2 linked regions of the Homo sapiens genome follow. The protein of the gene in region 2 purifies or fractionates together with the protein of the main gene of each other region. This does not show direct contact. Each region holds a gene or a part of one and is shown on either strand. Other genes may lie near its edges.

What was found. Proteins that work in one complex are often made in the same cells at the same time.
Region 1: the proteins of DFFB (region 2) and PRKACB purify together in Homo sapiens (affinity purification with mass spectrometry; 2 studies listed by BioGRID and IntAct, with this or other methods). This does not show direct contact.

The regions. Positions count from the first base shown.
Region 1 is NC_000001.11:84,182,259-84,186,029, reverse strand, and holds part of PRKACB (cAMP-dependent protein kinase catalytic subunit beta), read right to left. Parts: coding exon 3,702-3,771; intron 1,994-3,701; coding exon 1,895-1,993; intron 931-1,894; coding exon 848-930; intron 1-847. UniProt on the Homo sapiens protein: Mediates cAMP-dependent signaling triggered by receptor binding to GPCRs.
Region 2 is NC_000001.11:3,867,248-3,871,018, reverse strand, and holds part of DFFB (DNA fragmentation factor subunit beta), read right to left. Parts: intron 3,046-3,771; coding exon 2,966-3,045; intron 1,415-2,965; coding exon 1,244-1,414; intron 1-1,243. UniProt on the Homo sapiens protein: Nuclease that induces DNA fragmentation and chromatin condensation during apoptosis. Degrades naked DNA and induces apoptotic morphology.

The DNA of each region.
Region 1 (3,771 bases), about 80 Mb from region 2:
CAAAACAAATAAACATAAAATTTCTTTTTATAAAACCTCCAACCTTTTCTTTGTTTTCTAGACACATTGAAGACCACCTAGTCTGTGTATATGCCTCAAACTGCAATTCTTGCTTCCTCAATAAAATGTTGAATTTAGAGATTTGTCTCTACATTTTTATTTTGACTTCAACACACTATACTGAATGAAGCTGTACCTGTTTTTTATTTTAGCTTTATTCTATTAGTGATTATTAATGAACGGTAGAAGCTTATAAACTATTAAGTACAGGTAAAACCATCAGATTCTATAACCTATTTTAATAACTCTGAGATCTTATTAGTCATAACCTGATGAGGTACAAACTCCCGTTAAATTATGTGTATATTTTAAAAACTAAACTTAGCAAGAACTTTAAGGAGAATTAAATTTGTGAAAAACAAACTTTTATAATCTTATTACCATAATACTATTATTATTATTTCTCTATATATTTATTTTCCATCTTCATCCTTAAAACAATCCTCTGTCCTGGAGTTGTATTATTAATCTTTGTTTAATAAATATTGATATTTTAAAATTCAATTAATTTTTCCATTTTCTGAAAACTCTTCAAGTAGTGGACCCTCACAATATCTAGCAGTAGTATAACATTTAAATTGGCTTCAAAGTCCTTTTTTTATATTAAATTTTTATATTCTTTATATTAAAACTTGTGTATGATGTGGCCTCTTTGTTTCCACCTAATGCTTCATATGGCCAAAATATTAATCAAACAAAATAAGTTTTTGGCATTGGCATCAACTTAAAAATCTGGTTAAACAACACAAGCATATAAAGATTTGAAGAAAGCAAAACCATTAGTTACCTGAACCTTCCAATTCTTCTTAGATGTGAAAACATTTCACCCCCAGGGACATATTCCATAACCATGTATAAATTAGAATTATCCTATGAACAAATAAAAAGGAAATACAATTATTCAACTTAGGTCAAAATTATTTTAATATTATATAATGCTGAATTAGAAAAATTTAAAATCTCTCTGACAGATTAATAACCTTGAGAAATAAAGAATAAATGGAACATGCTCTAGCTTTTCTATACAGAGACACTCATATTTTTCCCCTCCTAGTTATTTTTGCCACAAACTAGTCTGGGACTTTTGCTCTTCCTTTTCTTGCAGAGAACATCTAGTTCTCAAACAATTAAATACTCAGGCAATGAAGTAACGTTATAATATATGCAAAAGAATAACAAAGGTAAAAAACAATTTAAAAAGTTAATAAGAATATTTACATTTTATGTATAAAAGATTAATGGTTTTAATATTTTAAATACATAGGTCTTCATTTAATTTAAAGAATAAAGGAGAAAAAAGATTAAAATGTTTCATATGATTCAATATTGCAGAGAGATGCCAGTATCATTCCAAAGAGCTCAAAAGTGACCAATTTAAATAATAAATGTGGTACAATTTTTCAGACATTTGAATAGTGGAACAAAAATTTTGCTTTGTATAAGTGAAAAGACTAGAACTCAAATTACTAAGTAAAAGAAGATGAGATAGTGGCAAAAAGGGCTTAATCAAAGTAGAAAATGTGTTGGGTGTATGAATTTGCATAAGAATTGTTATTAAGATATCCCTATGGTTTTTGATAAATTGAAATATTTCTTTTTGTAATACCATCTCATGAGTATCACCTTTGAACAATTTCCCCAGGGAGAATCAAAACCTTTTCAAACGTTACCTAAGTTATAAGCACAATAGGATTTAATTACACAAACTCTAGAGGTATTCGTTTTGTTTATTCATATTCTTCAGGCTTATCATCTGGTTTAGAATCCATTTATAGTTTCATCTTAAAAAAAATTTAGGTTGAAAATATCTTATTTAGATATTACTAAAATTTACCTTAAAAGCATACTCCAGTCGAACAAGGAAAGGAAAATTCACTGCCTGTAATATTCTTTTCTCATTCAAAGTATGCTCTATTTGCTTCAGTTTAACAACCTGTAATTGAGAGATAAATATCTCTTAATGTATTTAAGCAAAATTAAAAAGTTATCATTTAAAAAAATGTTTTCCATATAGTAATAAACTTGGATAAGCAAAATTGTTAGAATTGGATAAGGAAGATAATAACAATTACCAACTTTTAGGTTGGTGCATAAGTAATTGCGGTTTTTGCCATTACTTTTAATAATAGGATTCAAATGAAAACCTAATAGAGGATTTAAAACTTGGTCTTAGGAAGGTCAATTATGGTTTCAATTAAGAAGTGAGAGCTAAGTAGGAATAAGAAACAAACTCATAAGAAATTACTTTAAAAATTAGTTATGTCAATTATGCTTAAATAAATATATAATTACTTAAGGTAATTTAAAAATGAATGTGAAAATACTAAGGTCCTAATGACTTAAAGTCCTCTATAAAAGCTGGCTCAAATCTCTGCAATAAGTAGATAGTGATTTTAAATACTTCAGAAGATGAATAAGAAAATTAAAAATGAAGAGAAAGTCCATAACTGAAAAATAGTGAGTAAAAATGAACAATTTTCATTTTATAATATCTAAATAAATATAGGTATAAATTCTAAAAATTTATTTTATATTGCCATAGAAGAGGACACACAAAATATTGGGGAAAAAACTATCTTTATAACAAAAACTATCTTTGTATCCTAGGTCATTTAGACTTAAGCTTCCTCTAGATTTTCTATTTAATAGAAGGGGAAAGTAATTTATCTTGACTTCACGAAGACTGTGATTCTATTCCATATGTGATTCTATTTTGAATTTAAGAAGTGGTGACTTTAGCAAGACATATAAATAATTTTCTTGTATATGTGTAAATCATTAGAAGGTGGCATTCTTTCTTGCTGGAGTCTAATGGTCAATGTGAGGATAGTCACAGAAGTCAAGAAGTTAAATATAAATAACAAAAGTAATTAAAGATACCAGCCAGGTATTAATATATAAAATTAGGAGTATACTGATAATATTGAGCAAATAAATTGAGTAGGAGTCAGATTTGTGTTTTAATCTAGGCCTTTTATTTAACTAACTTTCTGACTTGAGATGATTTCAAATCTTTGGGCCTCAGGTTTTCAAAATTTGTAACATGAAGTGGTTGGATCACTACTGTACACATTTTAACTTCTGTAATAGTTACAAAACAAATTAGTCCATAATTGTCACAATAAATTATAGTTGTCCATCAGTATCCCTGGGGGTTGGTTCCAGGACCTACAGCAGAAACCAAAATGCCCAGGTGCTCAAGTCCCTTATATAAAATGACAGAGGCTTTGCATAAAGCCTATACACACTGTCCATATACTTTAAATCATCTCTAGATTACTTATAATACCTGATATATTGTAAATGCTATGTAAATAGTTGTTACACTGTATTGTTTAGGGAATAATAACAAGAAACAAAAGTCTGTACATGTTAGGTATAGATGTAATTTTTTTCCCAAATATCTTCAATCTGTGATTGGTTAAATCCATGGACGTGGAACCCATAGATATGGAAGGGCTGACTGTATACTAACTATGTATAATATAGTTACAATAAAAATTTAGTTACAATAAAAATTAAATTTAATAATAAAATTATTTGAAGCTGTCAATGGTAAGTCATTATACTGAATCTGTTTAATAGTCTAGCTGATAAAACTAAAGTTTACCCTGAAGGTAAATAACAACAAATACACTCACCTTCTGCTTATCTAAGATCTTCATGGCATAATACTGTTCAGTGGCTTTGTGTTTTACCAACATGACTCTT
Region 2 (3,771 bases):
GCAGGGCTGCCTCACTGAAGGTGCCATGGCCACAGCTTCCGTCTTCCCTGTGGTCCGCAGCCCAGCACTCAACACACTCATTCGTGAACAGACATCTGCAGAGCACGTGCCGGGAGCCCCAGTGCCTACTTGCACTCTGTGCCCCCATCACCCTGGGGACTCACAGCCTCCCCAGCAGAGCCCACTGCTTCCCACTGCCATGCCCGGAGCACCTGGTCCCTCCCAGCTCACTCTTGCACCCCCACCTATCAGTCAACCTGCTCTAAGGCCCCACCCCCTCCCTGGGGCCGCTTCTGACTGGCCCTGGCTCCCAGGATGCTGGCTGCGGCTCCTGCAGCCCCTTGGCCTCCTCTGTCTCGCTCATTTATGTGTCTTTCACCTTCCATTGTGCAGGACTCACCCTGCCATCAGGGATGAAGGATTTTTCATTTTTGTGTCCCAACCCCTCCCACAGTGCCAGGCACAAAGTAAGTACTCACTGAGTGGTGAGCGAGCGCACTGCAAAGTCTAAATGTTAAGCTAACTTGGAAGAAGCGTTTTTATGGCCAGAGCCCATCACCCCAGAAGGATCTGCCTGGCAGGAGCAGCAAGGAGCCCTGTCCCATGGGAAGAAGCACCGCAGGCCATGCCCACCACCTGGCCCCTGCTGCTGGACCCACTGAGTGGCACTCGGAAGATCACGGGCATCAGTGGACCTTACCGGGAATGCAACTGCAGTGTGCAAACGCCAAGAGGCGCCTCAAGTTGCTCCCCACACCATGGGAGGGGGAGGGGTGTGCCCAGGACTCGCCAGAGACACAGATGCATCACCACTAAAGGCCAGACCACGCCTAGCACGGTGCAGCAGGGACACCTGGGAAGGCAGCGGGGGAGTGCGGACCTGATCTCAGCTTCCAGCCTCCAGAACTATGAGCAGTAACCAGCTGCCGTTCCAGCCTCCCCAGCAGGGGTCATCTGTTATGGCAGCCGGGGCTGACTAAGACACCGCCCAGCACTACCGAGACAAGCCCTGGGGCGGGCCCTGCAGCCCTCTGCAAGCTCCCCAGGGATTCCTGTGTGCACTGCAGCTTGAGAGGCACTGGCTGAGACACTGCCGCCCTCCCTGGGAATGTGAGGGCTGTACCTCTTCACAAGGCTTTGCCCAGGCAGGGCAAGGGCTGAAGGTCCCCACCCGCCTCGCCCCAGGCGGGCTGTGTTCCACAGGCCAGCCGGGTGGCCCCAGGATAAAGGGCACACAGCTCACCTGGCAGGAGAACCAGCCTTCCGGTGTGCAGAGGCGGCTGCCGCCCTTGGCTCCTCTGTCGAAGTAGCTGCCATTGTACTGCATGGACCGGAGCCTCTGGCACATGGAGCCGAGGACCCGCAGGAATTCCTCCTGAGCCTCCGCACCCACCGTGGAGGGGTAGGAGCTCACCTGGAGGAACCAAGGAACGTCGGTGAGCCTGGTGCACAGCGCCCCAAAACCCGCACTGGCTCTCGATCCATCTCACTCCATGGCCCTCTGAGACCCTGCCCAAGCCCAGTCCTGTGGTCAGAGGGTCTGAGTTCACGTGGCCTCTCGGCCACTGCTGGGCTGTCCCACCCTGGGAGACTCTGACCTGTGAAATGGAGGGAACCACACCAGCCCCCAGGCTGGGTGAGACTTAGATGAGATAACAGGCTGGGTGTGGTGGCTCACGTCTGTAATCCCAGCACTCTGGGAGGCCGAGGTGGGCGGATCACTTGAGGTCAGGAGTTTGAGACCAGCCTGACCAACATGGTGAAACCCCATTTCTACTAGAAATACAAAAAATTAGCTGGGCATGGTGGTACATGCCTGTAATCCCAGCTACTTGGGAGGCTGAGGCAGGAGGATTACTTGAACCTGGAAGGCAGAGGTTGCAGTGAGCTGAGATTGCACCACTGTACTCCAGCCTGAGCAACAGAGTGAGACTCCGTCTCAAAAAAGAAGATGAGCTAATAAAGTCAGGCAGGCACGGCCATCCCACCCTGGTCAGGCAGGCAGTGGTGCGTGGAAGGGCCTGGTCATTGCACTTGCAGGGAAGAGTATCAGGATCAGTTAGCTCCACTACAGGGAGCAGGCTGGGAAATGCAAGGGAACATGGCAAGTCGCCAGGACCTCGAAGAGATGCAGAAAAACGGGGTGCAGTGCAGCATTAGCAATTGTGCCACAGAGAGGAGTGGGCCGAGGGCGTGGGGGCCGACCACGCAGGGCAGCACTAGGACAGGACACCCATTGCAGGGGCCTCCACAGCACCCTCCATGTGCTAATGATGCGGTGTGGCATGGTGTGGAATGACGTGGTGTGGCCTGGTGTGGTGTGGCCTGGTGTGGTGTGGCGTGGTGTGGTGTGGTGTGGCCTGGTGTGGTGTGGCTTGGTGTGGTGTGGCCTGGTGTGGTGTGGTCTGGTATGGTGTGGTATGGTGTAGCGTGGCATGTCATGCTATGTGATGAGGAAATCCACATTCGATGGGGTGGATGGAAATGAGGGCAGAGCTGACTCCACCTTTGGGAGGGAGGAGGGAGCGGTGGAGAGGTTTGCAGACCAAGGATGGGCTCATGGGAAGGGCCTCAGATCCCTGTAGCACCTGCTGACCTTGGTCACAGTTGGGCAAATGACAGCTCAGGCTCTGTGTCTGCCGTGACGCTTGCCACTGCTGCCCAGGAAGAAGCCTCGGGGGGAGAGGAGGAGAGGAGGGGAGGCAGGCAGGAGCCACCACCTCCCCGCTCCCCAACCCGTGACCTCAAGTGCAGCTGAAAAGGCCCGATGGGTGTTCACCCCCATGAAGGGAGGAGGCACAGGGTCCGTGCGCTAGCTTCCCTCACCAGAGCAGCCCCACCAGATCCACGCAAGCACGGAGTGTGGTCCTACCAACTACCCATCGTGAGGACCACAGGCTTCCAGAGCCCACAGAGCCTGGCTTCAAAAACCCGCCCAGCATACCCGGTCTTCACTCAGGCTCACCTCCCTCAGGTAACTCCGGATCCGGCTCTCACAGCTGTATCTCAGATAGCCAGACTTGCTCTGAAATCGGGACTCCAAGCCTGCAAGGAAAACGAGAAGACCCCCAAGTCCACAGGGCAGGCCAGGGGCCTCTGGGTCTGTGTCCTGCCCAGCCCAGGTGCCAAGCAGGGCAGAATATGAGGGTCATACTGCTTCATCTTTTTGACAGGGTCTTGCTCTGTCCTCCAGGCTGGAGTACAGTGGCACGAACACAGCTTACTACAGCCTTAACCTCCTGGGCTCAGGGAATCCTCCTGCCTCAGACTTCCAAGTGGCTAAGACTACAGGGACGCACTACCACACCTGGCTCACTTTTTAAATGTTTTTAGAGATGAGGTCTCACTTTGTTACCTAGGCTGATCTTGAACTCCAGGGCTCAAGCTGTCTTCCAGCCTCGGCCTCCCAAAGTGCTAGGATTATAGGTGTGAGCAACGACACCTGGCCAGATTGCATCATCTTGAGAAGTATTCTAATGGCGACACAGACAGCATCCCTGTTTGGTTTTTGTTGTTAGAAGCATCTCAAATACCACCAAGGAGCTTCTGCCTGGCCCTCAAGCCCTCCTTTCCCAAAAAGGCTACAATCTCTCAGCATCGCCTCTGATGGGCTTACAAGGCCAGGCCAAAAGGTGGAAGCAACCCAAGTGTCAGTGAATAGACAGTGTGGTATCTACACGCAGCGGAGTGAACAGACGGAGCGTGGCATGTACACGCAGTGGAGTGAATGGACAGAGTGGGGTATGTACACGCAGTGGAGTGAATAGATGG